Regions from separate parts of the Homo sapiens genome. Here regions 1, 2 and 4 are each linked to region 3. The links come from fine-mapping of genetic effects on gene expression. A gene starts in region 3. Each other region holds a variant in brackets. All regions are shown on one strand. Distances are from middle to middle. Region 1 overlaps PLCB1 (phospholipase C beta 1). Region 2 overlaps PLCB1 (phospholipase C beta 1). Region 3 holds the start of PLCB1 (phospholipase C beta 1). Region 4 overlaps PLCB1 (phospholipase C beta 1).

The links. PIP is the estimated chance that this variant, and not a neighbour inherited with it, causes the effect.
Region 1: its variant is fine-mapped to the expression of PLCB1 in blood mononuclear cells (TOPMed, PIP 0.99). The same link has a PIP of 0.9 or more in whole blood.
Region 2: its variant is fine-mapped to the expression of PLCB1 in whole blood (INTERVAL, PIP above 0.99).
Region 4: its variant is fine-mapped to the expression of PLCB1 in whole blood (TOPMed, PIP above 0.99).

The regions. Positions count from the first base shown.
Region 1 is chr20:8,472,058-8,480,168 of GRCh38, reverse strand. All of the region lies in intron 3 of PLCB1 (phospholipase C beta 1), which reads right to left. LOC124900459 (a long non-coding RNA gene) reads right to left here. Exons shown (of 2, transcript XR_007067518.1): 2 at 1-8,111. Among named protein-coding and RNA genes, the nearest start is that of PLCB1-IT1, 230 kb to the right of the region's middle. The variant T/C (reference allele first, on the strand shown) is at 3,927.
Region 2 is chr20:8,235,057-8,243,167 of GRCh38, reverse strand. All of the region lies in intron 2 of PLCB1 (phospholipase C beta 1), which reads right to left. Among named protein-coding and RNA genes, the nearest start is that of PLCB1-IT1, 9.6 kb to the left of the region's middle. The variant G/CG (reference allele first, on the strand shown) is at 4,303.
Region 3 is chr20:8,127,375-8,135,485 of GRCh38, reverse strand. PLCB1 (phospholipase C beta 1) reads right to left here and starts at 3,220. Exons shown (of 32, transcript NM_015192.4): 1 at 2,736-3,220. The coding sequence starts at 2,834. RefSeq lists a silencer at 2,995-3,134.
Region 4 is chr20:8,434,136-8,442,246 of GRCh38, reverse strand. All of the region lies in intron 3 of PLCB1 (phospholipase C beta 1), which reads right to left. LOC124900459 (a long non-coding RNA gene) reads right to left here. Exons shown (of 2, transcript XR_007067518.1): 2 at 1-8,111. Among named protein-coding and RNA genes, the nearest start is that of PLCB1-IT1, 190 kb to the right of the region's middle. The variant T/C (reference allele first, on the strand shown) is at 4,774.

The DNA.
Region 1 (8,111 bases), 340 kb before region 3:
GCCTGACCCTGCTAACCTGGAAAACCATGTTCTAATGCTGCACCTTTAAATCTCTGAAGTAATCTGAACTATTACCTGGCGACCCTAGAGATGGAGAAGTCTCCTGGCCTAGCCAATTTCTCCTTTATTTCTCAGCTACTGTCCCACTACTGAGAAAACCTTTAGAAACCGATACCTAGATAGTTCACCATCACTATTACATGTAGTGCTCAGCTCAAGGAAATCCCATACCTAGAAATCCCAGAACTAAGACATGACTGCATGGAACGTGCTTTGTGCATATAGATTTGTGTTATGCTACAGGTTGGGTTCTGATCTTCATATCCTTTTCATTTCGAAATCGTCAACTACCTAAAAGATATTTTTCTCATAGTAAAGGGCAGAAATGCAAGAGAAGGAGTCATACCACACAAGCACATGTAAAGTCATTACATCCACTAACATTTGACTAGCTAAAGCAAGTCACAGGGCCAAGTCAATGCAGTAGATTGTCAACTCCACTTACACTCATGGCAAAGATGGAAAGCAAAAGAATTGTGAATAAATAACACCATCTATCACCAATGCTAGGGACATAAAAGTGAGTAATATAGATGGCTAAGTTGTAAAGGAGCCTGCGGTCTATTAAGAATTGTGACTCTGTAATGTTTCCTGTTAGTGGAAGCAAAGATATAGCATACAACCATTTTCCTCACAAAACTTTCCATTGTCAGTTAATAGACATAGATCTTGCAGTATTAAAGCTCATATAGAATGAAACTTATTTCATGTAAGCTAATGTTTTATAATTTCCTGTCAGGTTTAAAAATATTGTATCTTCTGAAATGTATTTCAGCATTATCTTATTGCTGAGAATGCACTGCATTTATCTTTAGGTTACTCATTCTATAATAAAAATAAAATATTTACATAAAAATGTACACTTTGATGGCTTGCACCTATTCTATAATGCTATAATTTGTTACCAATTAGCATTCTACAGCAGGTGACATAAAACAAATAAACAAGCAAAGTTGATAATAAAAAATAAGACATTAAACAAATATGTAAATTATAGTGCATATAATTCTACATTATTTTGAATATGTGCACTTCTTATTAATATTATTACTCCATAATAGAGAATACTCATGCCAGTTTGCCACAATGAAGAATTAATGACAACGAAAATTTCACATAGTAATTATCTAAAGAATTAGGCTTAACAGCCAGACTGTAAAACTGACTTATAAGCCATGTAAACCAAGCTTTTTACATGTATAATGAATGAAGTTTACATCAAAGTAATTTTGAGCATTTTTAATCTATGAAAAGAGCCTGCTTAACATAGCAGTTTTTAGATCATTAGTAGCAGAAAATTTTTTTCAGAATTGATATTTCATAAAACCTTTAACTTTACATTTTGAAGTTAGCAAAAATTACAAAAAAGCACCACAATCTATAATTTTGAGGAAAAAATAATGAAAATTTTAACTATTTAAAATATGCTTGTTTTCAAAGCTACCTTCCTTAATTAGAATAAGAAGAATTTCTACAGTTTCCCCAACATACATGAAATTCTATGCCCAAAATTAAAAATGCAAAACATAAAATAGTGCTGCATGTTTAAGGGTAAGCTCTCATTATTATTTGTTTCCTGTCATCTGTGTGTTATTTATATATGTATATTTATATATTTTGCTTTTGTTGAAGCTGTTTTCTCTCAATGGAATGTCCACATCTTAAATCTACTCAAGTTCTGTTGGCTCTGTGAAGCCTAAATTCAAAATGACACCTCCCTTCACTAATTTTTTTTTTCTGCTCAGTCTGTCTGTGTTCCATTATTAAACTCCCATGTTATGCTTTTTCAATATTTCATAACTTAATAACACACGAGTTGTGTATACTATTTGCAAGTTAAATACATGCATCTCCAACAAGTGCCATGAAACTAACCTTTTGCGGTTGTCACCATAATCCTTAGCATGATGCTAGGCACAAAATAGTTTCTCAACAAATACTTGATCTTTCACTCCTTTACTTGAGTTTCAGCCAGTGATAAAGAATGCTACCACTGCAAATTAACAAAACTGTGAGCACAGCTCTCCCTATGAATAATCTATTCCTGTTTTGAATTATTGATTAAATTTCCTTCAGATAAATTTTACTCAATAGATTTAAAGCCAGAAACAAGCAGGGAGGACTTTCTGGGAGAAAGTCAACCAAAACCCATGACAAAGAGGAGAGATAGATGGAACAGTCTATGTAAAGCACTAAGATGTGGTTTGGATGTGTGTCCCATCCAAACGTTAAGCCGAAATGTTATTCCCAGTATTGGAGATGGGGCCTAGTGGGAGCTGCTTGGATTATGGGTGCAAATCTTTCATGACTGTCTTGGCGCCATCGCCCTGGTGATGAGTGAGTTCTTGCACAATTAGTTCATGCGAGAGCTGGTTCTTTAAATGAGCCTGGCACATCCTCCCCACTCCTTTGCTTCCTCTCTTGCTATGTGACACACCTGCTCCCTATTCGCCTTCTGCCATGAGTGAAAGCTTCCTGAGGCTTCACCAGATGCTGGTGCCAAGCTTGTACAGCCTGCAGAACCACGAACTAAATAAACCTCTTTTCTTTCTAAATTACTAAATTTCTAAATTTCAGATATTCTTTTACAACAAAGCAAAAATGGGCTAATACACACTAGTTACATGGAAGTTGATACATTTTTGGTGTTCTCTCCTTATTATTTTATACTATTTCAGATGCCTCAGGAAGGATATAATCAATGTAACCACCATTGGATGGGTTCTTATGTCTGCCCGTCTTCCTTTGGTCCTAATACCTGGCAGACATCCAAACGATTAGATAGGAAAGGAGACTTTTAATACCTTACAATTAAGTTGCTGCGGCAACTCTACAGCTTTGCCTCCCAGTTAGCAACATCTCTCAAAATTGAACATGCGTTGGAATTGCTTGGGGATCTTTTCAAGCTGTACTTCAGTAGATCTGGAGGGGCCTGCGATTCTGTATGGCTCATAAGCTTGCAGGTGCTGCTGGTCTAGAGACTACTCATTAGATTCATGCCCAGAGATTCTGATTTAGTTGGTCTGGGGTGGATCTTAAATGTCTGTACTCTTTGGAACCCGCTGAGTAATCCTCAAGTACAGCCTGATTTCAGAAAAACTACAATGGACCATCAGTTTCCTGAAAAAAATCCTTTTCCTACAGCTGGTGTTTGAATAATCCATCATGGTAAGGAAATAGTGTGACTGCAGAATCTTTGATCAATGGCCTATATGATGGGGTGGGAGCCTCCTTTCCATCATTTTAAGCTTCTGGTGATATGTAAACATATAGCTTCCTCATCATTTTGAACATCACACACACAAAAAAGCCATCCTAATACAAGTGAAGATAAGATATTCCAAGGCCCGTCTATTCAGAGTGCTCCAAGGATGCTGTATCCACCTTCTCTAAGATCTTTTAAGAAAAGGAAAATTTCAATCCCTATCCCAGACTCACTGAGTCAAAATTTATATTTTTAATAAGATTTTAAGGTGATTTGTGTGCTCATTAAAATTGGAGAAGGCTCTAATGAAGAAATTCTCTTGCATGTTTTCAAAAGCTTTATATTAAAATATTTGATAAAAGGATAGTTTTAATATAGTATCTGAAGCACTTAAGGAAATTAACTTTAGCATCCAGCCAGAATGAATAATATGAGTAGAATATTAGATTCTTTTTGTTTTGTTTTAGCGAGGTAAAATTTAGGTTACACCAAGGAGCAAAGTACATATTCTTCAAGGTGATCAACAGCTTTGCTGTGTGAGATCATGCTTCATCAAGTCAGCTGTGCCAAATCAGGCTGACACACTTGACACACTTGACACACTTGAACAAGAAGGAAGTGACTGATCTGTGGTTTCTTCAGGATTGAGGTACAGAATCCA[T/C]TGCAACACTTTTACTTCTCCTCTTTATTCCTTCCTACCATCATTTTGTGTCTTTGTGAACTCCTGTAAGCTGCTCTACTAGGTCTCCCAGGAAACATTCTTGCAAAAGTGACCACCAGTAGCCGTGGGGGCCAAGACACAGTGTTTTGGTTGGTGCCGGAAATGACTGTAATAGCCTTAAACTCCACATTTAAGAGCACAGAGCAATGACATCTGCATCCCTGGAGTCTGTTAGAAATGCAGAATCTCAGGTCCCACACCAGACCTGCGTCAGAATTGGCATTTTAACAAGATAGGAAGCAGTGGTGTATGACAGTGTGTTAGATACTGTCTTTGTAGAGTTGTAGAGAAGCAGCCATGTGCATGATTGGAAGTTATGGAAATAGTAATACAAAATAGCATATACTCTTTACCAGTTATCCTAGTATTAATCACAGAAGTGTGCTATCACTTTCTACCTTGCATTGATTATCCTATTGTTTTTCTTTACTTCATACAAACATTGTTCCTATACAAGATATTGGCTATATCTAAGATGTTATATATCTACCAAATAGTCCATGTGAAGTGAAATCCTTTACATACACCAATTATCTGAAAAAAAGTGTGCAAGTGTCTGAAAGATGTTGTTGGTTTTAAAAAGACAAGGTGTAGAAAAAAGTTACATTTGTGTTTCAACTTCATGTTACCAGCTGTGTGACTCCGAACACAGGCTGAACTCCTCTGTGCCTCAGTTACCTTGTTTGTAAAATTAGAATAGTTATACCTCACTTTCTGGTTTGTTGCAAGGACATCTCTGTCTTTTTTTCCCACTTATTTTTTTGAGACAGGGTCTTGCTGTGTTGCCCAGGTTGGTCTCCAACCCACAGGCTCAAGCAATCCTGCCACCTCAACCTCCTGAGTAGCTGGGATTACAGGCATGCACCACTGCTCTCGGCTGCCAGGGTATCTCCTGATCTTCATTATGTCTTCAGTAGCACAGAGTAAGCCTCCACCACCCAAAATGGCTTTTGAACAAATGAATAAAGTGTATTTTAAAAAACCTTACTGGCATATCTTGGGTACCACATAACATAAATGTCTCCCTTATCTTAATGATTGAACATTTTTCATGTAAGATCTTTGATTGAAAATATACAATCCCATTATAAATTCATGCACTCAATGATTTCTCCTTGCCAAATATACTAAAGAGTGTGTGTGTGTGTCTGTGTGTGTGTGTGTGTGTGTGTCTGTGTGTGTGATCTTGTTTTTTGACTAGTGTATATTGTTACTAGATATCTGGAAGCTTTGGTCTGAATTACTCAATGTTTAATCATACCTGGCGAACTTCAGGTGAAAGCAGCAGAATATTATGGAATGAGGAGGGTGAAGAATTTTATCACTGAAGTGAAGATAATAAAATCATCAATTGTGGTCACACTTAGATCTCTTAAAATTCTTAATGGGCAATGTACTTCCCCATTCTCTGAACCCAGAACCAACCTCCCATCCTTTGACAATCATCCAAGGTCCAGAAATGTCACATCTTAGTCCCCAGCCTAAATGCAGAGCCCATAGACCACCCAGCATTACACTTCTGGTGCTAGAGCATGAATGCCAAGCCTGAAATCGAGTGGCTTTATGGCTCAATAGTCAGTCCCTTATGAGGGCCTACAGCAGCATCCAGCATGTTGCATGTTCTGCTCCTTCTGCCTCTCCTCCACCATAATCCCTGCCACTCTACCCCTCATTCATGTTTGCTCATCTTTAAACTTGCCAAGCACACTCCGATCCAAGGACTTTGCCCCTGCTGTTCCCTACACCTATAATCATTTCCCCAACAAATATCCACATGATTTATGATTTTCTCCCTCAGAGCATTTCAGCCTCTGCTCAAATGTCATACTCTGACAGCCCATCTTCCAGTCCATGCCACTCCCGCATCACCCTCTAGCATGTCATTTTGCTTTATCTTTCTTCCTAGCATGAAACTCTACCTGCCATTGGGTTGTATTTTTATTTGCTTATTATGTATAAAAAGAGGAATCTCATTTTATTCATGGCTATATACCCAGCACTAAGATCATTACAAGGCACATAGCAGGTGATCAGTATTTGTTAAATAAATAAAATCATCTTCATGTCCTGCCCCTCTTTGCCACTGGGGCATGGGAACGAACTGGATGCCCTAATGATATTCCTGCCTAATTTACAACACATGCTCAAGTGAGAGACAGGCAAGAGTCAAGACTATTGCAGACAATTAATTAACTGTCTTAATTCAATAAGATTTCTTAGAGGCATCAGTGGTGTTCTGGAGCATGTGATCACTTCTTGTTTTTAAAGATAATGCACCATATTCCCATTTGAGAAAAAATTCACCATATTATATAAATGGGGTTAAGGTTCTGCATCAGGTTTTTGTACTGCTGCTGGTTTTAAGACTCAGGCTGCTGAGTGCCCAGCCTTTGCAAGAATCCACTTCAGGAATAATGACATCATGCCTTAACTCTTCTGAAACACATTTTCACTCACTGAGCAGTTCAGACAAAACCAATTACATGATGTCATTTTCTATTTTGGAGAAGAGGCCAGGGTGCTTGGATGGATATTTACTTCACATTATTGCACTAGAGCTGTGGCAGGCACCTCGGTCTTGATACTAATGGCACCTGTTGAAATGATAACTAACAAGGCTGGATTGTCAAAATCAATTTTCTTGCTATGTGTGATGCTTTGCTACTCAGTTTAATGTTCAAAGGAGATTCAGGAGATATAAAGAGTCAGTTATTTGTTTTGTAAATTGAGAACAGATCAATAAAATGTGCCTTCTAGGAATGCCAAAGACATCTTTGAACTAATTTGAAGAGAACTTATTAAAGAAATTACTTAACATGTGGATATATTAATTATTAGCCTAAGACTAATGTATAATTAATGTGTGCGTGCATGTGTAATTTTTTTTTCCTTTGGAGATAACTAACTCCAATTCATTAGTCAGATTAATTTCAACACTGTAAATATAAAAAAGCAAATATTCAGCAGTGTATGTCAAGATCACTGCATGTTCACCAAAATCCATTTCATCTTCTTGAGCATATGTGGTTGGATTACATGCCCCAGTGTCCCTTGGGATGAGGTTTGGTGATATGACTGACTTCTAGCTCACAGAGTTAGAGCTAGAGTCACATTCACAGAAACCTTCCACTGGTGACCGTCCATACTCTTTCTCCTTCTGGCTTGATGCAGCCTAGCAGGGTAAGTTGGATGTCTCTGTTTGTAGATGATGGGTTTACAAGATGGAAGAATGCCGGCCATGTGAATCATGGCTTGAAGGGAAACAGTCCACCAGAAAGAGCATTTTGTAAACAACAATGTAAACTTCAATAGTGTTAAGCTACTGAGATGTGGGGGTTTATCTTTCATAGCAACTAGCCCCAGGAAGAACTGTGGTGACCTTCCTGGTCCCTATCTTGCATCATATTTTCATAATCGAGCACTCTAATTGGCTACTCTTCAATTCTTCACCATACTTGGGTGATCAATGCAACATCTCAATGACGAAGATAACTTTTTTTTTTTTGAGACAAAGTTTTGCAGTGTTGCCCAGGTTGGCCTTGAACTCCTAGGCTCAAGTAATCCTCCCACCTCAGCCTCCCCAGTAGCTGGACTACAGGCATGCACCATCATACCTGGCTTAAAGAGAACACGGCTATTCCAGAGAGAGTTGTTCTATAAAGTAATGGTATATATGTATATCTGGAGTCAGAGCTAAGCTCTATAATATCAGTTTAACTAGTTAAGGTGGCTTTATTATATTGGGGCTTGACTTATCCATCATCTGGCTTCTACTTCACAGTAAAATTAAGTGGTCACCAGAACCCCAGTGATGGGGCTGGTATTGGTAAAAACATAAAATTAATTAGAAAATGTATGAAAGCAAATAAATAAAATGAAAAGAACATAACAATAAAAGAAAAGGGCCATTCTTTTGAGTTAATGCTTCAATTTGGCCCCCAAAAAACTCCACAAAGATTTGCAAACAATAATATCTTTACAATCAAGTATCTATGCTGAATTTGCCTTGAAACAAAAATTCTGCTACTTCACCAAAAATAAGAGCTAAATTTCCTAATGGACACATTGCTAGTACCTTAGGGGAGAAATCAAAAATAATTATTTTTTCACTTATTACGAATATGG
Region 2 (8,111 bases), 110 kb before region 3:
TGTGCTCCAGCAAACACCAAAACTTTATCTTAGGTCGTGATATTTTTTAACTGTTTCACCACCTGATAATATGACCTAGCCACCTGGAAGCTGAGTGAAATCCTATCACAAACCCACAGATAGCATGCCCGTAACGATGCAAATTTAGATTTGAGGCTACTGGCCACTGACTTCCTGTTTTTCTCCAAAATTCCCCACTTCTCATCTCATTAACTTCCAATTAACATAGCTTCATATCTTATCCAATTCACTCTGCACACCCCATTTGTAGCCTTATGGCCATTATTCCCATAGCACAATTGAACCAGAGATGACATTTCCAAACCAGAAGCATTATGTCTCTCCTGACATTCAGGTTCCTCCTCCTTCTCCTTTCTTTATGTCCCAAAGCCACACAACCTTGTCCCTATCCCTGGAGCTAAAAGCTGCCTTTATAACCAGTCAATAAATCCTGCTTTTCCTTCTTTCAAGGTAACTTCTTGCATCCTCAGCAATTGCCATTCCTCTCTTTTCTCTCTAAGTCGACTAATGTATCCCTAGGCCTCTATTGTTACCATTACCTTTCAGCTCACCTCTGGCGCTCAGCCTCTCCACCCTTTCAACTTGCCATATATCAAACACCTTTCCCTTGCAAACTTCCCCTCTCAATTAGAGGATCAGGTGCCTGGTTTTGCAGTGGCCTTTAAGTACTCCTTAGTAAGTCTGACCACATTGACCCCTCACTTCTCCTGTTCCTTGTGGTTCAAATACTAATCATTGCCTTCTTAGAGGAGCTGCTTGTGCCATGATATAAAAGAACCTGCTCCCAGGCTGAGGTAAACAAGAATCTGAAAGCATTATCCTCATCATAGCTGAGTGGACCAGGGATAGACATCTGGCCCGTGGAATCTGGCACTGAGGCCTAGTGATGCTAGTAGCTGGAATCTTTGCTGCAGCTGATGTGACCACACGCTGGGTAGAGCAAATAAGCCATTCTGCAGAGAGAAAAAAAATAAAAACAACAACAACAGAAACATGTAGCAGGAAGGTCAAGGGAGAAAGAAGAGACACTAAGTTCTCTGGAGAGACACAGGGAGTCCTTCTAGCTCCTGACTCCTAATATCTGGCTGTTTATCATGAGACCCCAATGAGTTTCTTGCCAATGCCCTTTATCCTCCAAAATTATACTTCCCAAAGCCAGTTGAACAGAGCTCTGTTCTTGTACATTAACCCAGTGAAAGCATGTGTGTACCATGCCTGTCTTCATCTGTGCCTTTACACAGACTACTCTCCCTCTTTAAATGTGGAACCCTCCTCCTTCAATCATCTAAATCTCAGCCACCTTTTGGGACTTAGCTCCAACTCTGCTTCTTCCAAGAGGACTTCTTTGCTCCAGTGTTCACTGATTTCTACTGAGGTGGGAGGAAGGGTGGTAGAAAGAAGTAGGGAAAGCTAGAGAACCTCTGTGTATACTAGTTGATGTGTTATTCTCTTTCTCAGCCTCCATTTCCTGATACGGAAATCAAACAAAACAAGACTTACAACATGGGTTGTAAGTCTTGTGAGCATAGATTAGATAACATACATAAAAATGCCTAGCCCAGCTCCTTGCCTCTACTCGGTGCCTAATTAATATTTCATTGCACTTCTTGTATTTTTTTTACTCCTACAGAACTTTGCTTCAACATCAAGCTGACATTAAGTGACTACAAAGACATAATAGTTTTCCAAAAATTCACTCGATGTCAGCCCAGTTGTCCTCAAACACGAGAGCGTTCAAGTGCTGTGCTCCTCCATGTGAAGAGAGAAAGAGGACCCAAAATGAGGTTAACCAAATGCTTAGCCAGGATCATCAGACAATTGTGACCCAACATGACATTAGGATAGAGAAGGACTCATAGAGAATGAACCCAAACCCCATTAAAATTATCTTTCCTGGAAAGTAGAGGCTTAATTTTTCAAGTAGATTACTTGCATTCTTTTTATCAACTCACTATGCATATTTTTCTTACATTTGGGAATACATCAAGGGAAGAAATAAAGATGATTCTGTTGATAAATTTCTAAACCAGGAGAAATTCAATTACATTAGGAAATACCCAAAACATGAAAATGTTGGCAGATATGTGATCACAGGATCACATAACCTGGAAAAATAACCTAAAACAGACAAGTAAAGAATCTCGTGTTCACCATAGTTTCCCAAAACCCATAATTTGGCAATTATACTTCTGTTTGTATTCAACTCATTGATTTAAATGACCAATCAGAACTGGTTTTGCTTTGCTGGTAAAGAATAGGAAAAGTATGAAGCAAAATTTCATGGGGCTAGTTTAATATACATTATTTTCTTCTTTTATAAATTTGGAAAAAATTTGATGTAGACACTAGAAATCTATAAAGGAAATAGGATATTTGATTTCTAGTTCCTAAATTGTTATGCTATCTGGCAAGCTATAAAATCTCTGTGCCTTACCTTCTTAACCTTCTTAATTTCTAAAATTAAAAGGCTGCTATACTATCATCTTGAAGGATAAGTTGGCAATGCCACTTAAAATGTAAAATGCATTTACGCTTCCCTATGTATCCCAAAGAAGGCCAATACTTATGCACAAGGAGGTGTGTGCATTCCAGCATCATTGGTAACAGAAAAAAAATTAAAACAAGCCAAATATCCATTTAAGGAGAAAGTGAAAAAAATGATGGCGCATCCATGTGATGAAATATTGTGCATCAAATAAAAATAGTGAAGTAGCTCTAGGCATACTGATATGCAAAAATCTCTAAGATACATCACTAAGTATAAAAAGCAAAATGCAAAAAAATGCTATGTATTGAACATACATTAAATACTGCATATTAAGCAAATGTGTGTGTGTGTGCGTGTGTGTGTGTGTGTGTGTGTGTGTCAATATCATGAAAATTTTGGAAGGTTTCACAGCAAACTGATAACGGTTAACCTGTGTTGTTGTTTGGGAGACTGAGAGGTGTTGAGGAAGTTACTGACCTCATTCACACAGCTTTTGTTTTTTTTCATGAAAAAAAATCATAGATTATGGTTGTAATTACAATTCGTTTTAAAAATCAGAGGCATAGTCTAAGTAATCACTAAGTCTTTTCCCAGTTCTATGTTTAATAGAAAACTATGGATAATTTGTTTTCAGAAATCTGAATGTCTCTTGGTCTGCTTTGTAAACCATAACTGATTTATAAGCAAATCATTGGGAATTACCTATCGTCTTAAAAGGAAGTAGCATAAATGTGAAATAGTTTTATAGATTTGTACCCAAAACCTTAGAGCTGTGGGCAAGATATTTAACACAGCCTCCAAATCAACATCAACAAAAACCCATTTTACAGTGCATTAGTGGCCACAGTGCTAAGGCTCTTTGTGAACTGAATTGTTGCCAATTCTATCACAAAATTCTAAGGCATAGAATAAAATGCTATTCTTTGTGTTTAATAAAAAGGATCTCCTATCAAGCATCGTATCTTTCCTAAGTGTTAACCAATAAACTCAGTACCCTATTCAATACTCTTTTTCTCAAGATTTATCTCACAGCTACATGAACTGACTTTACTTTTTTTTTTTTTTAAGTACCAGAAAGAGGAAACACAAAGAGAACACTGAAGCACTATTTGGTAAAACTACATGCAATTTACTAGAGACAAAACTTAACACTTTTCAAACTGCATTTGGTACTCTCTCTAATTTATCCACACCCACCACTGGCTTATTTGCAAACATCACTAAGCTGGTGCCTATTCCTTACACCGGATGGTGACTTTACAAAAGCATATTGTTAGCACTGCCTTGCCTAAGATGGCTTAAATCATCATTTCTGTCCTTACTATATAGGAAGGTTAATGACTGAAAGTTCATGAGAAGGCTTGTTGATGACTTTGGGTCTCTTCTTATCCATCACATTCCAACTAGATTTTAAGTTGCATTCAATACTCATCGGACCACATATTTCTGTTCTGGAAGGCGTTAGTTCCCTGTCCACCTCAGTCTCATCCTAGCTCTGAGAAATAGGTGCTCCTTCTCTTTTCCAGGGCTCATCCCGGTCCTGGTATACTGCTCCAATCTCCTCCTGCTTTCACTTAGGGTTCTTTCTGTTTACTCAACTATCCCCTCTTTTTCCTGTATTTCAGTGTTCCCCTCTCTCCTGCTTCCTTTTGCTCTACCTAAAGACATGCTCTAGTCTCCCTAAATATAAATAAAAGTCTTTCGACCAATGATGCTACACTCTTAAGTCCATAGTCTTCCATTCCTCCCCAGGCCTTAGCTTCTGCTTCTCGGGGTCTGATGTCTTCCCCCCA[G/CG]CCACCCATTTACTCAATGGACTCCACCATCCCTAAGATTACCCATTTCTATATACTTTTAGGCCCAGTGGCTTGTCTCAGTTATCATTGCCTCAGGTCTGTCTATAACATTTGAAACCACAGGCCAAACACTTCCCGCAATTTTGCCCCCTTTCCGTTTTCCTTGAGCCTGTCTTATTTCATCTTTTTTTTAAAACCAATTAACTGACCTCTTTTTCCCCTTTCATCCTGCATATGTTAATATGAGTCCTTGTACATATTGTCTTGTTCCTCACTTTGTATATATAAAGGTGAGTCCTTATACTTCTGTCTAGCTCTTCTGAGAGACCTCATCTAGTATATGACATCTGGCATGATAGAGAGATGGAAACAGCATTGTTCATAATGTAGTTTATGTGAATGATAAGCCCTGGAGCTTAACTTCAGATAAGAGAATGAGAAGAGCATCCCCTGGGTTTGGAACTGTGCAGAGGCTCTGCACTAACCTGGAATTCATTGCCTTCATAAGGTTTAGCTGTCACTTTTAGGTAACTGACTCCTATATGAGTATCACCTCACTGACATGTCTGATTCAGGAGCCAATTACATATTCCCAAATGCCTGCTGGATACTTCCACGCAGGTAAATTGTCAGCTCCTCAAATTATCTTACCTGAAATCACAGTCATACCTTGGCTATTCCCACCAACACCCTCCAAGCCACTTCTCCTTCCAGGAAGTTTAAGAGTACAAATCATTACTCGTTCAATTTATTCACCTCTCTAACTCCTACAGGGACACCATGAGTGCATAACTCACATGGAAAAGATTTCGTTGAGTTTCAGACCATTCATTTTCGTCTTTGAGAATAATTTTAAATTCTTAGAAAAGAGTCAAATATTAAATTCAAATCTGTCTGTCTTTCAAAGGCCATCTTTAACTTGTATATCTTAAATCTTTCCCCAAGACATTACACAATCTTTTTATAAGAAGTTGGCAGGATTAATTTTTTAAAAGTTGACACTTCATTGTTTTTGCAAAGAAAAAGACAATTTTTGCAGAGGTATGACTGTTAAAACTGGGATCCCATTTACGTAATTAGTTAGCTAATTAATCCCATGGTTGGTGCCTGATTATATTGCAGATTCTATTTGTGTCTACATCAGGGTAAATGAAAAACTAGATTAGCCAATTAAGTAGTAATGGGGAAACCAGTAAATGGAGATTTCTCCTTTAAACTCTGAATTAAGATATAGTTATAATTATTTCATTTCTGCTTTCTGATTTTAGAAAACAAAATGTCCATTGTAAAATACAATGAAATATGATTTTTATCATGATGTTATAAAAGTAATATATGCTTGCTGTAGAAAAACACTTGCAAATGTGAGGCAAGTACAAGTAAGTAAATTAAAATCATTTATAATCACACAAGACAGAGAAAACCACTGTTACTTTCGTGCATGTCCATATGACTTCTGGGCATTTTTTCTTTTTAAAAAATAAGATCTTATTGTTCATTTTCCTTTGTAATCTGCATATTTCCCTTGACACTAGAGCATGAACATATTTATATATTATTTAATTTGGTAACAGCTTTCTTAATGTCTGCCTACGATTCCACTATTGACATATATTATGATTATTTAATTTATTCCTTTGGCTGAATACTTACAGTTTATGTTTCAATTTGTTATACTATTGATCAGTACTACAAGCAATTTCCTTGCAATGTCTGCCTACTTTCATTATAATTTCCTTAGAATAATACATTAAAAATAAAATTTTTGAATTAAAGGGCTTGAGGACTTTCATGCTTGTGATAAATATGCCAAAGGCTACCAGAAAAGCTGAACCAATGTAAATTATCTGCAAAATACCTTGGAGTGGTATTTAACCTCCCCACTGTCAACCACTGGAACTTTTAGTTTTGAAAATAAGGGAAATTTTATGGGTGAAAATAATTATTGTTATAGTATGTATTTCTTTGATTATTGCTGAAATTAATAACTTTCTCATATCTATTTGTGTTTGCATTTCTTTCTTTCTTTGGGGGACTTTACTTTCCCATTCATATCGTTTACCCATATTTCTATTATTCTTTAATTTATAAAGGCTAGTACAGAATAAGGATTTAAAGTTTCTAAAATGTCATCTATTTTGCAAAAATATTCCAGTTTGTTTGGTTCGGACTTGGCATTTGTGAATTGTTTTGTGTAGAAGTATTTTTAAATAATGGTGCTATCAAGTTTGTCTTTACTCTCCTTTTGTAGTTTCTGCCTCTCATTGAATAATCCTGTGTTACCCAATTGATTTAGTACCTTTATTTTATATTAATTAATTAATTAATATTTTGAGATGGGGTCTTGTTCTGTTACCCAAGCTGGAGTGCAGTTGTGAGATTATAGTTTACTGCAACCTCAAACTCCTGGGCTCAAGCGATCCTCCCGCCTTAGCCTCTCGAGCAGCTAGAACTGCAGGCAGGCACCACTACCCATAGCTAATTTTTTGAATTTTTTGTAAAGACAGGGGTCTCACTATGTTATCTGGGCTGATTTCAAACTCCCGGCCTCAAGCCATCCTCTTGCCTCAGCCTCCTAAATTACTGGGATTACAAGTGTGAGTCACTGTGCCTGTGTTATTTTTTATAGTAATTAGTGTATTTATGAACTTTCTATTCTGTTTTACTGATGAATTGATTTCCATATCAATAGAGTGCTATATTAGTTGTCTTACACTATATTTGAAATTTTGGTTGGCATAATTCCCTCAGCATTTTTTAGTAGTTTCTTCAAAAAATTTCAAATTAACTTGAGTCATTTTCCAAGTTTGAAAAACACCTTCCTAACTTTAACTGAATTTGTAGTAATTTAATTTGGAAAGAACATGTATCTTTAAAATATTATTCCTTCCAGAAATATAGTGCTTCTACTTATTTAAAACTACTTTGGATTGCCTTGAGAGTTTCAATTTAATACAAGAATCCTATACACGCCTTAAGATTTTTTTTAAATATAGGTCCTTTATATTTGAGCTTGAGGTTTTGAATGTCAGCTTCACTAACTTTTGATTACTGGACATAAAAAACTTTCTCATTTTATAAAAGTATTTTAGAAATAATTTCCGTGTTGAACTCTTCCTTGGGATTAACATTTTAGTTGATCTTGTTTTTTCAGGGTAGACAGTCATCTCATACGCAAGTTATAAAATGACAATTCTAATATTTATAGTGCTTAATTCATTTTATTAAGCAGTGTTCAATAATAGGGACGTGCACGAATAACTTTGGCTCTCTCCCAATTTAGAGACATGCTCAAGAATGTTACTATCATGTATGATGTTGTTGGTTTGTGATAGCATCTTACTATTTCTAATTTGTAAGAGATTTTTAAAATTATTAGAATTTTGTCACATCTTTTTGTTGCCTTATCAGTATGATCATGTGGCTTTCCTCTTTTTATCTGTAGAAGTAATAATTATATGGATATATTTTCCAATAATAAAACATTCTTACATTTCAGAATCAATTTCTATTATGTGGTATTTTTATTATACTGCTAGCTATTATCTAAGGACAACTTCAATCTTAATTTACCAGTAGAATAATTCTGCAACATGCTTTAGAAATGGAATATTTTATGTGAATTACTAGTAAATAATGCACATTATATTTTTATTCTCTCTAAGCTCCACATATATCTCTAAATGGCTGGAAAAGGCTCTGAATAATATCTCAGACACATACTTTGAAAGATAGCCACATATGGTGCATATATTCAGAAATGTCCAATAAACAGTTTAACCCAGAAGGAAGTTACATGAATTTAGGCA
Region 3 (8,111 bases):
CTTTCGACTACCACCCTTAGAGCATCCACAGCCTCACTGTGACTTGGTAGGTGGCCAGCAAATTATGCATGGCACTGCAACCTCTGGGTGACATCTTCCATTCCATATGGTGGTCAAGACAACAAGACCAGTGATTATACTGCTTTAATCACTTCAGGAACAAGAGATAATTTCTTCACATCCTAAACAGCCCCAAATTCATCATTTTTGAATGTCCTGTAACATTACCACGCTTTTACACAAGAAGCAGCAAAAATACAGAGAAGCTAAGTGATTTGCCTAAAGTCATGCAGCTTACTGGTGAAAGAACTAGGAGGTAAACTCAGGCCTTTGATTCAAGATCTGGTTCTTTTTTGTCTTCAACACACTGTCTCACTAAGGTACAATATAAATAGCCAGATAACTTGAACTGGCTTGATTCTGGAAGGGCAAATACGAGCTGAGAAGAGTAGAAAAGGGATGCCTGGGGAAGAGAAAGGCAACCTTAAGAAAGGCTGGGTCCCTTGTAGTCCACTGATCAGCATGAAGACCCAGAGAACCAAAGAGCCTGCAAGATAGCTCATTATATTCCAGATAACTTGACTCCTGAGTGCAGTCTAGGTTTTTTTTTTTTTTTTAAAAAAGACCTGAAATTCTTCTGGTCTTCTCCTTAGTGACTATGTCCTTTCTTTCAGGAGGGCTTCCTTGGAAACTCACTGCTGCAATGCTCAGAAGGAGCTCTTTTCAACTTCTTCTTTGGTTGGTATTTCACTAACGTCCTCTCTATTACCCTCAATGCATCACCCAATCTCTCTCTCATTGGTGTTTTTGATGATTTTTGTCTCCTCCACCTAGCATGTAAGGTCCGTAACAGCAGGGATTTTGTCTACTTTTTTCACCACCCCAGAATCCAGTCTAGGATTGGCAGTAATAGGTGAGCAAGAAATATGTGTTACAGAAATGCACATAATGAAAGTCATCTACCTGGATATACCAAAATGTGTTTTCATAGAATACTTTCATTCTCAATGTGATGTTGGCTATTCTCTCCCAAACAAGAAATTATAGAGAATTATTTAAAATACAGTTTAGAATCATCACTGTATACAAATCCAGAGCTTACGCTGAAACTCCCTTTTCTAAATTCTGCAAAGTCTCTTTCTCTTTCCTCTGCCCTTCACTCTCTTTCTCAGTAAATCCATCATCACATCACCTCTCTATTCAAGGATCTCAAAATGGGCAAGACCGTCTTGTTTATTGCTGAACTGCATTTTCTTTGTCTTTTTTTTCCCTGACACAAAGCATTTAATCTGCGTCTGAATTTATTGTTTAGATTCTATTCCATTTACAGAAACATTCAGTACAATTAGACTGGAACAGAAAGAAGAAAAGTGTGAAGCCCATGGTAAAAAGATGTATGTTTACATCCTTGCCTACAGCATTTAATAATTGGCACGAGCTTTCAAGGAAGCTGTGGTTCATACTCCAAGTTCCGTTTGCGCTTCCAGCTGGACAAAATATAGACACAGACGCACTCAGCTAAGTAATTGGATTCACTACCTGGAATATTTAAATTGTTTTCAGACACTGGAAAATGGCTTAAGAAGATTAAAGAAAAATACCCTAGAGGATAACAGGCTATAATTTACTAGGTGGAAAATCTTTTCGGCAAGAAGAACGCCTCATTCTCCTATAATTCCTTCTGATTAAGAGATGTATTAGTCATTTGGACTTAAATTTGCTTAGAGCCTGGCAACTCGGGTTTATTTCAGTAGGTTTTTCTTATCGAACCTTTAGAATGACACCCAGGACATAAAACTGATACCATAATGTTCTCCATCCGAAGATTCGCATGTTTTCAGCTGGATAACTAATTTACGTGTTTTGAAGACAACTGGGGTAGAGGGGAAGGGGAAGTCATTTGAAGTCCTGGGGTCTGGGCCGCTCGTAAAGCATTAGAGACCCCGGCGCTGGGCTAGGCTCTGCCCTACCTGGCAAACGGTGCAGGTAAATCGTGGGGCAAACTCTCAACCTGTCTATTTCAGGCAGAAGACTCCAATCAGCTCAGTTCTCAAAAGTCAGCCCTCCCCACTTGCCTGCAGGCCCATGAGCCCTCCAGGACCCCTCAAGGGCCCCCATTCTGTTCACGCCCTCCCCAGATGTGTCCCCGCAGCCCTTTTCAGGGACCCTCACTCCGGAGCCAGGCGCTGAAGTTTGGCATCAACGACCACCTGTTGGCTGGACCGTTGTGTCCTCCGCCGCCTTGGCTCCCACAAAAGCGCCAAGAGGGTTCGCAATCACTAAAGTGTTTTGAACTTCAGGTCCTTCCTTCTTGAAATCGGGCAAAAGAGGTAATAGGGGGTGCGTCCGCAGGCGGAGAGGGACGCGATTTGTTCACACCAGGCGCTTTCCAGTTGGTCCCAACTTCACACTCCCTACTTTCCGAACTCTCAGGACCTGTCACCAGGCAAAGCTTGCCCCTCCCTCTCCACTGGCCCAAAAGATGTAAGACCCTCAGGGGGCGCCTGCCAGACCCAGAAAGGATGGCAACTACTGAAGCCCGATGAAACAGGAGCGCGCGCAAAGCTTCTGCCCTTGGACATCCGCTTTGGCAGATGCCAACCTGTGCGCCCGAGGCTGCCCCTGCCCGCTCCCAGTGCGCCCATTGCATAACGCGCCCCTTGCCCCACCCCCACGACGCCCGCCCTGCCCGGTGCCCGAGCCAGCGCCCCGACTCGGGCCGCCCCAATACTTACATCATCCCACTTGACGAATTTGGTGCCCTTCTTGAGGCTGTCGGACACGCACACGGGCTTGAGTTGCAAGGCGTGCACTCCGGGTTGAGCCCCGGCCATCTGGGCTCATCTGGGCTCCGGGCGGCCCGGGCGAGCGCGGCAGGGACTGGGGACCGTGCGCGGGGCGCGGGGCGCGGGGCGCGGGCTCCTTTCTCTGCTCCGGAGGCGCTCGACTCTGCTCCCCGCCGGCCTCCCCGGCCTCCCGGCCTCCGCACCTCCCTCCGGCGCCGCTCAGCAGGCAGAGCGCGCGGGGGCGCAGCGCCCGGCCATGCCCCGGGCGGGACGCGAGGTCTGGAGCCCGCGGTGGATGAGGAGCCTCGGAAGGCGAAGAGAAGCCGAGCCGGTCAGCCGAGGCTGCCAGTCGCGGCGGATTCTGCTCCTCCGCCGCCGCCGCCTCAAAGCGCACCATTCAGCACATCCTCTATACACAGAGGGAGAGAGCGAGTGACACACGCCCGGCGCCCCCCCTAACCGCTCTTTTCCCTCCTCCCTCCTCCTCCCCCCCGCCCCCCTTCCCCGCCACCCTCGCTCGCTGGGTCCTTCCTTCCCCCCGCGGCTCCCAGCCCAACTTTGCACGCTGGGTCAGGCGCCAGGAAGCGGGGACGCAGCGGCACCTCCTGGCTCCCGAGCCCCATTGCAGCCAACGCCTGCCTCCCGCATTCGCTCTGAGCATGCCCCGTGCCCTGGTTGCAGAGGTGCTAGGGGTCCCCAGGAGCCTTACGCTCTTTGGGGTTTTCTTGGGAATTTGGGCTCGAGCTCCGGAGCGTCTTTGGATCCCAACTGGCTGGGAAAAGGGGCCCATCGGGAGGAACCAAAGAGGCAACCCCTGGCTTTTGGCTCTAGCTGGAGCTCTCCAGCGCCAGCCACAAACCAGCTTTTTGAAGAGAATTATCATTTATCAGCAGAGAAGAGCGCAGTTGAGAGGCTCTTTGAGGAAACCTGGCCGCGCCTGAGAGTTTGCAGCGCGCTGATCTTGAAACCCGGGCAAACGGTTACGTTGTGCTTTCGAGACAGAAAGCCCATCCTAAAGAAAGCAAAGGTTTTATTTTCCGAGGAAGAAAGAGGGTGCCCTCTCCCGCTCCTCTCCTTGAGTGTGTAGGATGTGTGGCGGGTGGGGGAGAGTCTTATTAATAGAAACTTGCTCATTTAGGAACATAGGTCCAGGAATGTTTGTCTTCACTCCTTCCACAAACATTTCTCAATTCAAGAAAGAAAGGGAGGGAGGGAGGGAAGAAGGGAAAGAGGAGGACCAGAATGGATAAAATTTTAAAGACTGGTAATACCAAATGCTTGAAAGGATGTGGAGCAACTGGAACTCTTTTTTTTTTTTTATTAAGGAGAGAGAGGAGAGGGAGAGAGAGAGTGAGTGAGTGTGAGAGAGAGAAAGAGAGAGAGAGAGAGACACACGCGGGAGGTGGGGGGGCGGAGAGAGAAATAGCTTGGAACTCTTGTTCATTGCTGGAGGGAATATAAAATAGTAAAACCACTTTGGAGAATAGTTTCTTATAAAGTAAGATATTTACTTATCATACAACCTAGAAATTCCACTCCTAAGTATTTGTCCAAAAGAAATGAAAACGTTCAAGTCTGCAGGGACTTGTAAAGTGATGTGAAGAACTTTCTTCTTAGTAGCCTGCAAATGTCAATCAACAGGTGAATGGATAAACAAACTGTGGTATGCCCAAATATTGGAATACTATTCCACAATAAAAATGAGTGGGCATGCAAGATCAGGGATGAATCGCGACTTTAAGCTTTGTAAAAGAAGCCGGACACGATAGACTGTATGCTGCCTGATTCCATGTGTAGGAATTGCAGAATAGGCAAGATATTCTATGTTGACAGAAAGCTTGCCTGTGGCCAGGGATAGGTAGAGATGGACAGGGAAGGGCTACGAGCACCTGATGAGCATGTCGGAAATGTTCTATATCGTGTGTGTGTTTATCAAAACTTGTAAGTTCTGTAAGTACGCCTAAATTGAGTGCAGTTTGTTTTAAATAAATTATATCTCAAAAAGGTTGATTTTTAAAAAGAAGAAAGAATACGAAGAGAGAAAAATGGAGAGAAACACTACATTCTCTTAATCCTTCATTCTCCCTGTTCTCTGCCCTCAGGACTCCAAGGCCCAATGCTTATGAACTCAGTCAAAAGATTACCAAAATCCAATACAGAAATTTGCTATTAAATATTTCAATGCATTTAAAATATACTTATTGGTAGCCAGCTGTATACTAGCCACTATTGTAATCACCATGGATAACCTGGTGAACAAGACCCATGACTCTTGCTGTCATTTGAGGGTCTTGCCTTGTGCTTGGAAGCCAATTGCTACAAAGAATTTCATGAAAAACTGACTGGTTTCATTTTGATCACATGTCCCTAAACTAAAACCTGAATGGTCCACAGTCCCTCTAGCCAGCAGCCTTGGCTTGCTAATTACCTCACAGAAGGTATCAGTCACCGTCTCAAGTCGATTTTCTCTACTTCAGAGTACTGCAATGAAACTCTGCTTCCAGGGCTCCAGAACTTCTCAATTGTCCTTACAACTGATCATACCAAATTGTTTTCCTTTCCTTTCCTTTCCTTTCCTTTCCTCCTTTCCTTTCCTTTCTTTTCCTTTTCTCCTTCTATCTCTTTGTTATTTACTGGAAAGATTATTGGCCAAATAGTTTTTACCTGTCACAGTGGCTTAGGAAGGCAAGACAGGGCTGCGCTCACTAGAAGAGGAGATTGGAGAGTTACAATGAGCTCTAAGCAAAATAAGAAGTAGATTGAGCCTCCTGTGGTAGTTTATTGCATCATAGCTCTCTGCTCCCTGCTCCTTTCTGCGTCCACACATTTTTCTTTGTGACCTTACAGTTTTTACTAGACACCCTGTTTATTTATCCATCCCATTGATGTTGGACAATGTGACTTGCTTTGGCCAATGGCATGTTTGAAGATGTGATATTAGCAAAGGCTCAAAATATGCTTTGAGGTTGGGCTTTCCCTCTTGGGTTTCTTATCATTTCCATGAGATAAACATGCCTCAGGGAGCCTCTGATCTAAGGAGACAATCAGGACAGACCTAAGCCCCATTTACAGCTTGGAAGCAAGTCCAGTAGAAACCATCCTAGATCTCCCAGACTCAGCCAACCTGCAGACTCATGAACATGACAATAAACGTTCATTGTTGAATGGCACTGAGTTGGGAGTCATTTGGTAACCACCATTATTGGCAATGGATAGTTGAGTATTTCATCTAGCATCCCTGATTCCTCCCAGCTGTTGCTGTGAACGTGGACGTAAAAAGGAGAGAACGCTGTAGAAATCTGAACAGGATTTGTCTTCAAGACAAACATGGGCTGCAAGAGTTTCTTCAGCCAGCAAAATGACGCAGTTTGTTAAAGGAGAACTACAGGATAAATACCTTCAACATGTAGCATGATGCTTGAAGCAGCATGGTTTAACTCCCTCATTTTCCACACCTTTTGTTCAGTATACAAGATAGAAATGTTTCTAAAGTGTGGAGTTTTTTTGTTTTTTTCCCATTCTTTTTTTTAAATTATTATTATTATACTTTAAGTTTTAGGGTACGTGTGCACAACGTTCAGGTTAGTTACATATGTATACACGTGCCATGTTGTTGTGCTGCACCCATTAACTCATCATTTAGCATTAGGTATATCTCCTAATGCTATCCCTCCCCCGTCCCCCCACCCCACAACAGTTCCCGGTGTGTGATGTTCCCCTTCCTGTGTCCAAGTGTGGAGATTTTTGCTATGCAAAGGGATCTGTAAGAAATCCAAAATTGTGTGAGCCAGGCCTGTGATCCGTCAAGTTCGGTGCTGTGTACTGTTTTTTGAAACAATAGGAAGGTCTGTTTTTTGTGAGAGCACAGAATTGCCCTCTGGGAATGTCAGCCTCAGGGAGCTGGCAAAGCTAACCTTTATTGAGCACTCACTGTGGGTCAGAGCACTAAGCTAAGCACTTCCCAGACACTAAAAAACATAACCCTTCCTATTCAACACCACTCTCCACCCTCTTTTTCTTGTAAGCAAACCCTGACTTAATTTGGGTGGTCGTCATGCTTAGGAAACATGGCCCCTCTCTCTTTCCAAGGAACAAACTATGATTGGCCTAAACTAATGTCAATAATTCCATTCCCCTTTGTCTGTAACTGGTTTAAGAGCTATATGAGGGGCTCAGTTCTGACTAATGTCTTCAGGGAAATTCTCTTTCTCTGTCTCATATTGTTATGTAAAGAGGACACTGACAAGAAAGATGCAAAGAAACCTGGTCCTTCATGAGCTTTTTAAACCCTTTAAATTTTCTTTAGACTTTTTAATGAGTGAGATAATAAATCTCTTTATTATTTAAGCTTTATTGTTACTCTCAGCTGATCTGGTAGATAATATTATTGTATGCTATTTTACTGATTTATATACTAAAGTTTGGAGGATGGATTAACCTCCTCCAGTTACAAAATTCGGAATTGAGATGGAGACCTAGGAAGTCTGACTTTAGAACCTAGACTCTTAACTACCATGGTAGATACTTCTACAACTTATAAGGCAGATATGAGTAGTTTCTCTCTCCTTTTAACCACAGTGTAATATAAATAGTCCTAATTTCCCTAGAAACTAGATTGTGGTATGTACTCCAGTCTCTTGTCAGCTCATAACTCACTTGAGGCCTGCCACAGTGGGAAGGACAGTGTTTTGATTTGAATAGACATATCTTTTAACAGCCAGTTCTACCAATTACTACGTACGTAACCGTGGGAAAGTCTCTTATCTCTTCTGAAATACAAGGTCCTAATATGTAAATGGAGAAATAATAATAATGTCAAAGCTTTTTATGTCACATACTCTTCTCAGGGTTTTACATTTTTAATGCATTCACTGTCATATTAACCCCTAGGAGCCGGGTTACTATTATCTCCACTTTATAGCTGGGTAATCTGAGTCAGAGAAGTGTTAAGTAGTTGTTCAACATTTTCCAGCTAGTAAGTGAGTGAACCAGAATTTAAACTAGGCAGTTTGACCCCAGAGCCTACATATTTAACCACCACAGTAAGCTGTCTTAAAGAGGTATTGCAAAGATTAAATGAAATCATATATCTAAGTCCCTGTCACAGCGGTAATCAATAGTAGTTAACACACATATGGTTATTCTGAAATTCTACTATATTCCCTTTCTATGCCCTAAATAACTCTTTTAGTCTTAAAAGACAGCATTCTAATTCTGTGGTCTGTGATTTAGTAAACTTCTTTTTGGCTGCATTGATTCTATAAACTTTAATCATATTCATTTTTGTCTCTAACCTTCTAGAACTGAAAAGCTCTTTTCCATCAT
Region 4 (8,111 bases), 310 kb before region 3:
CTTTAGAAATTATCATCTCATGTATTCTGCTGTAGCAGTACAAATGGACTAAGATAACCAAGAAGTAAAAATTAAGTATTTAAGACATATTTTTTCTAGAAAATTCTCAAAATAAAAATAAGGAAAAAACTACAGAATCATTGAGCCATGTCTTGAAAACACATGCACACATTAACAAATGGAATATATTCAATTATTTTATTTCTATATTCTAGATTCAATCATATTCAGTGTGTCTTCTGCGTATGTGTGTGTGTTTTAAATCTGAAGTCAGAACTAGAACAAAGTATGTTTCTTGAAAATGGATTCCTTGTTTTCTATATTTATTTATCTTGATACAATGCTTCTTTGAATTAACTATGTAACAGTTATAAGGTGCTTTATTGCTGCTTAGCTAATCCTCCTGGATTGATATTTAAAAGGATTTAAAATTTTTTTCAGATATAAAGAGTTTCATGATCATCCTTCCCTAAGACAATCTCAAGAGAATGCTGCCCTCTCCCCCTCCTCTATCTGCCCATAGGAATTTTTCTGTTAAAAGAGTGATCAATATCTGAGAGATCGTCTGTTATGGTCGGTCACTGCTTATGTTTCACACCTGCCTGGTTAATTGGTAGGCAAACAGTGTTTCATTCAGTCCCTAGCGTTCATGCAAAACCGTCTGTATTTAGATAAACTTTCAGTCACTTAGCAAACCTCCAAAATAAAGATTATTTATTATTTCTTATTGATATAAATTGGAATTACAACGATCAGATTTCTTACTTTGTGATCAGATTATCTTTGCAACTAGTAAATTGCAAGGTGTCAAAGTTCTTGACTGCAAAATGCACTCAAAGCAATTTTCTCTTGAAGCAAATCACTCCACCTTTAGAAAATTCATACCAAATTCAGAAAATCTTTGGCTGACAGTCTGGTATCAAGCTCTTCTGTAAGTATCCTATTATGGTCGGTAAGTGTAAAAATTGATATTTTCACATAGATTTCAACTATAATTCTGTAGAGCTAACCATAGATGCCTAATGCCAATGAATAAACAATGTTACTACTTTACTTGGAATATTACTGGTTAGAAACAACGATTTAATTCTAATTGTAGATATCAATAATAATTGGAACATTGTCAAGAAATGTGGCCACGTATTTGTGGGTATATACTGGATTTCTTGTAATGCTACCTTTTTCAAAAGATCACTCCGTTGAATGACGAGAGTAAAGTTTCTTGAATTTTTTCCACCTCAAGTCCCTCTGCTGTAAAATGGTGAGGCTGGGTTAATTTCTCTTTTTAATTTAATTTCTTAAATTGACACATAATAATTGTATATATTCATGGAGTACATAGTGATGTTTCGATCCATATAACATATAGTGATCAGATCACGGTAATTATCATATATATATATATATAAAATCAAAAACATTTATCATTTCTTTGTGTGGGGAACATTAAATATCCTCCTTCTAGCTATCTGATACTATATACCATATGATTGTTAACTTTAGTCTTCCTGCAAAGCTATACAATACTAGAATTTATTCCTCCTATCTAGCTATAATTTTGTATCCTTTAACAAGTCTCTCCCTAACCCTCCCTTCCCCCAACCCTTCCAAAGTGGTTTAATTGCTTTTCTAGCCATAATATACAAACTTTCTGGATATATGGAAACATGGGTAAGCCCTGGGAAGACTGAATTGTCTGGATCCATAGACAAGAACTGGACTGGTTAAAAGGTGTTTGATGGAATAATATGTAACAATCAATTCCTGGAGAAAGTCCAGGTGCCACAGGGAATCACTGGGGACCCATTTGACCTGCTTCCCTTCTTTCTTCAATGTTCTAGCTGTAACAGTCAAGTCATTTTTACAGACAATAAAAACATGACTAAAGTCCAAATAAAATAAATACATCCTTATTTCCCATCACCCATATCAATACTAGCTATGGGAGTCACAAATGTTTGAACCTTTTTTGTCATCAGAATACTTAATAATACTGAAATGATTTTCCAGCCTTAGATATACATTTTTCAGTCATTGATTGCTGGCTTTCAAGGTAAAAGTTGTTTCTGTCCAAACACCACTAGTTTAAATCTTCCCATTTCATGGCGACCTTGAGGTGATCAGCATACATTTCAAATGCCCTTATGAAAGAAGCTCTGAGTATGCATAACTATATTATTCAGGAATCTTCTCATTCCTTTTGTTTAACATTCTTTGAAGCCAACATAATCTTTTGTATAACTGCCTTATGTACCCTTAACAAGATAATATACATGCATCCACATATAAGCCTACAAATCCTAAGATATGATTAATTAAAATAAAATAGAAAATAGAGGTCAGAATAGCTTCAAAAGAGGGCAAGGGATGACTTAGTCAAAGAAAGCTTTTAAAATTTTAAGAACTTTGGTGCACGGTACAAGGCATTTTCTATGCCTATAAAAAGGTCAACGACCTAGAAGAAAAAATAAATGAAAAAAAAATCTAACCAGTGAAAAGAAGGGAAAAAAGCTTAAATCAAGCATAAGGCAGAATGTAGAAAATATAGTAATGAAGATTTAAATTTTATTTACAGACCTGCTGTCCATATGCCACCCAAATATTCCAGTATAATCTATCTAAATATCTAATTACTATGAATCTAAATTTCTAAATACGACACAACTTCAAAGAGCGATAAATGCTTGTTTAGAACATGGTCTAAATAGTACGAGCCATGTAATTCCTCAAGAAAATTTGACACAAATTCCAGCTCCCTTGGATAAGTGTTTGAGTATTTCTGTACCTAAGTTTTTCTTATGAAATAGTAACAGTTTATGTTACCTGTTTTATGGGTCTTAGGAAAAAATACATCCTGCCATCTTTTGAAGGCTTTAAAAAAAGAGGTTTCTTTTTTAGGTATTGTTTGAAATGAGCCAATAAAGAGTATATTCCTGAGTCTAATAAATGCTTCGGTGTGCTAATGCCCTGCTAGATGCCTGGAGGCTTGGCACCTTTACGACAAGTATTTTAGCCACTGACCCTGAATGCTGTGGATGGAAACGCTACAGTAAGTTGTTGGCAATTTGCACTCCATCGACTGTTAAATCATTTGCTCACTCTTGTCAAAATATTTACTGAATCTCCACTCTGTAAAGCCCTAGGGATACACAGGTAGGATAAAGAACTTCACAATGTAGAAAGCTCTAAAGAGCTGCTTAAAATAATTGGAGAGAGTGGTCTTCTAAGATGACCTTACGAGAGCACGTCGCTGACTCTCCTTCCCTCTGAATTCCCTGCCGACAAAGTCAACAACCAAAGAGCAAAGAGGCAGTGACTGAAGGTCATGTGCAAGGCCAGTCATGCTCCATCTCATCACAAAAAAAGCAGAGTGGGTGCCTTGCATCGTCTTGGGGCCAGGTGAAATAACCAGTGGCCACTTTCTGAGGAGATGCTCTTCTTGTGGCCTGGGGTGAGGACAAAGGATTTTGTGGCCCCTTGGGTCAGGAAATGGGGCAAAGACCTGAACCCAATGGTTGCTGTCCATAAGCCATAAAGAGGCATGTCATTCAGCAAAGCTAGGGGGTACTTGGCCAGGAACTGCAGTCGTCTGAATCCTGACGCACCCTAGACATTGTGGCTAAGAGACAACTGTGGCTTGCATTCACAGATACCTGAGAACTTCACTTTCTTATTGGGTTGTAAGAGCCATGTAAGAGTATGTTAGAGATGGTATATGTTTCCCTTTTTCTGATATATCTTGTAACTGTTTTCTCCCAGCCTGTAACTTGTCTTTACCTTTGTCTGCTTTGTCTTTTGCCCATTAGAAGTTTAACAGTGTTAAGCAGATAACCTACCAGTGTTTTACTTTGCTTCTGGGTTTTGCGCTATGTCTAAAAATGTTTTCTCCCACTCTACAGTTATAAAAAGTATATTATGTATATTCTAGCAATTTTGGTTTTCCCTCAATATTTAGGTATGTATATAATATGGAAATTATTTGCTTATATGGTGTGAAGTAGGTTGCCAAAATTACTTTTATATACGGATATTCATTGTTCCAATATCTTTCCTGGAAACACCATTTCACTATTAATTGGAAATGTCATTTATATCAGATGCTTAACTAGCAAAAATAAACATTTATGAAATTATCTACAAATATATAAGATAGAACACACAAAATAAAAATGAAATTCATATATGAAGATATAAATTTTAAAAGTTCTACAAATAATAAAATAAACTATAAGTATATAAAATTCATAAAATAGACTTTTTTTATGTTTCAGGGAGTGATTACCTTATAATGGCATAGTCTGTTTGGACATATATTCTCAGTATCATTTATTGGCAATTTATTTCCCTCTACTTGTCAATCTTTAGAGGCTGCAGTGATATGTATGTGGCCTACTAAGTTTTCAAGGATTTCCCCTCATATCTAATTAGCTACATAATTGGTAATTTTACCTAATACTTCCTTGCTCACTGTCTTGAAGGTTCCCAGAGCCCCAGTAAAAGTGGTATTTTTATATTGAATAGGGAATTTTTCTTTGCCACTCTGGTGCACATTTTTGATAGCCATCTCAGCCCAAAAATGTTCATATAAGTACAAATAATGGTAGAAATAAACACCATACCAGAGAGAACAAATAGATGGTAAAAACAGTAAGATGTCAGTCTACTGTACTGGATGACTAGTTATTTGAGAAATAGTGATTCCACTACTCAGTACTGTAATGGATTTGTGTTCATATATTTGTGTATAGTTTAATAAAACCATTTCTAAAACAA[T/C]AGTGCTACAATGAAATAGCATTTCATGCATCCATTCTAAATGAGTTATGCTTGTTTGAACACTTTCTAATCTCTTCTACTCCATTGATACAGTTGTCTATTCCTGTACTATTAGGTAATATTTTAGTAAATAGTAGCTTTAGAATATTCTCCTTCTAGCCCAAATTCCCTCTAATCTTGAGATGACTCTAAGTTGGTTTCCTGATTTCCACTCTGAGGAAAATATCTGAGGTTGTCTCAGTAATGGAACGTTTTTATCCATTTTCCTCTTTGAAAATGTAACTCCAGCCTGCATGGTTCTGATAGGCTTATTTTACTCCTGGCTACAGGGGAAGGCGTGCATTCCAGGCCTGGCTGAACAGATCATTAAAATCCATGGTTACGGACCAGGCTCGGTGGCTCATGCCTGTAATCCCGGCACTTTAGGAGGCCAAGGTGGGTGGATCACTTGAGGTTAGGAGTTTGAGACCAGCCTGGCCAATATGGTGAAAGCTCATCTCTACTAAAAATACAAAAATTAGCTGGGTGTGGTGGCACACGCCTGTGATCTCAGCTACTTGGGAGGCTGAAGCAGGAGAATCACTTGAAACCGGGAGGTGGAGGTTGCAGTGAGCAAAGATCGTACCCCTGCACTCCAGCCTGGGCAACAGAGTGAGACTCTGTTTCAGAAAATAATAAATAAATAAATAAATAAAATTCCATGGCTACGGTGGCTAGGTCAAGTGTTGGCACATATTCTATGTTGGTCTAATGAAAGCTACATCAGGGTTTTCACTGGAACAGGTGGAATCAGGGATCCTTCCTGGATTTGTAGTTAAAAGTATGTAAGCCTAGAGCAAAGGGTGGCAATACATGGAGAAAAAATAAATAGACACCAAAACCTATAAAATGAGGAGAGACAGAGAAGAGAGAAAAAAAAGAGGAAAAGAGAAAAAAGAGAGTTTGGTGTTAACAGATTTTTTAAATTAACAATCTCTTCCCACATAGTCACAACATAAAAGGATAAACCTGAAGTGTTTGTTGTCTTGTTTTTTTTTTCTTGAACACAACTTAAGAAGTCCAGATTTTCTGAAGCAGAAATAGTCATTGCTCAAAATAATTAATTTATGTAAACATATGTTCAATATTCTTTTTTTTTTTTTTTTTGACAGGGTCTCACTCTGTCACCCAGACTGGAGTTCGGTGGCGCGATCTCAGTGCAACCTCTGCCTTCCAGGTTAAAGTGATTCTTGATTCTTGTGCCTCAGCCTCTCAAGTAGCAGGGCTAATTAACCATGCCTGGCTAACTTTTTTGTGTTTTTAGTAGAGACAGGTTTCGTCATGGCCAGGCTGGTCTCGAACTCCTGGCCTCAACTGATCCACCTGCCTCAGCCTCCCAAAGTGCTGGGATTACAGGCGTGAGCCACTGTGCCTGGTCATATTCAATATCCTTAATGATGGAACTTCCAAGAGAAGTAGAGAACACACTGTTATTTTCCTTGTGTGGAGAGGAATTTTAGTGTATCTCATCTAGGAATCACCTGGCATCATTACAATCTATCCTTAAAGATGCCTGAAATCTTAGGAGAGTTCATCTTTTCATCTGGGGTCAGTCAAAACCACAATAGTGATATTTCAAATGGTGCTTAGTCACAACTTCCTTGAAAAAATGATCTCTGTCTTTGCAGTATATCTGGTAACGGAAATGGGATATTAACGTCTAAACCCACTCTCCTGTCAATGTCTCATAAGACTGTAACTAAGGGATCAGCCAGATTGGGTTAAAGTCTGGAGGCTTGATTGGGGAATAATCCACTTCCAAGCTCATTCAGGTTGACGGTAGAATTCAATTTCTTGAGCTCTGTGACTGAGGGCTCTGGCTTTTTGTTGGGGCCTTGGATACCAGAGGCTGCTTGCAGTTCCGGAGGCTGTCATATTTCCTTGATATGTAGGCTTCTCCAAAAGAGCCACTAACTTCAGCAAGTCTTCAAGAACAGTCTATTGCCTCCAGAAGGGCCCAGTTCCTTTTTTAAGGGCTTTCACCTAATTAAGTCAGGCTCACCCAGGATAATCTCCCTTTTGATTTACTCAAAATCAACTGACATGACACTTTAATTATAGCTGCAAAATCCCTTCACCTTTGTCATATTCTACCGGGTAGAAGCAAACCTTAGGTTTTGCCCACACTTAATGGGCAGGGCATGGACACCAACGGATGGGATTCTGAAGGCCATCTCAGAATTAGGTCTACCACATCTACACTCCATAGTCTTGTACAGTAAGGATAAATTGTCTTAATGCTTATAGTGTATCTACACAAGAACTAGGCAGTGTTGTGAAGAGTGACACATTCATGCCACTGGGGAGCTTGTAAGTATCACACCAAATTCCTTCTCCAATGGATTAACCTTGTAGCTCTATTCATTTCAATAGATATTCTACTGCAGGCATGTTATACACCATGGACTACAGCTATACAGCATGGTCCCAGCACAATTCCTACAAACTTTTGTTAGAATGTTTGTATGTGTGTGATTGTCTACGTGCATGAGAGGCTGTGTGGTATAGTGAAAAGTGTGTACACTTTGGAGTCCTGAGAGTGTCAGCTTGCATGTGCCCTCCATTAACCAGGCCCTGCCTTAGAAAATTTTAGCTTTATTATCCACGATGTGGGGAAGCCTATTCCTCAACTCCTCCAGTATTAGGGTAAGACAGTGTCATGGATGGAGGTACTGGTTAAGCTCATGAGCTCTAGAGGAGACCTCTATCTAGCTCTTATTAGCTGTGTGACCATAAGCAAATTGCATAACCTCTCTAGACTTCAGTGTTAACTCCTATTTCATAACCTTAGTAATTGTTTCTAGTTCACGGTGTTGAAATACCAGTAGAATGTTTGGTATACAGATATGAATTGCTCAATAAACATTAGTTCTCATATTTCTAATATGTGTAAAATGCCTGGGACAGTAATTGATAGAATAAATACTAATTGGACATCTAATCTGTTTTAGGCACTCCCTTAGGAGTAGCAATAAAGCAGTGAATAAGACAGAAGAAATTTCCACCCTCTTGACCTTACATGCTTACATATCTTTCATATATTATTATTATTTTATGATTTTGTCCTCTGCTATATGATAACACCATTAAGGACAGAGACCAATCTGACTTATGTGAAACCTTAGGATCTGGTATGTTGGACACATATAGGCATTCAATAAAACTTTATAGGAATGAAAAATAAAAAATAGAACAGAGACCGTATTTTCAAAAATGTTTAAATTCCAGAAGGAAGTGCAGACACAAAACTAACTAGAATGAATACATGAATTAACCAACTGTCAACTATCTTCCTGCCT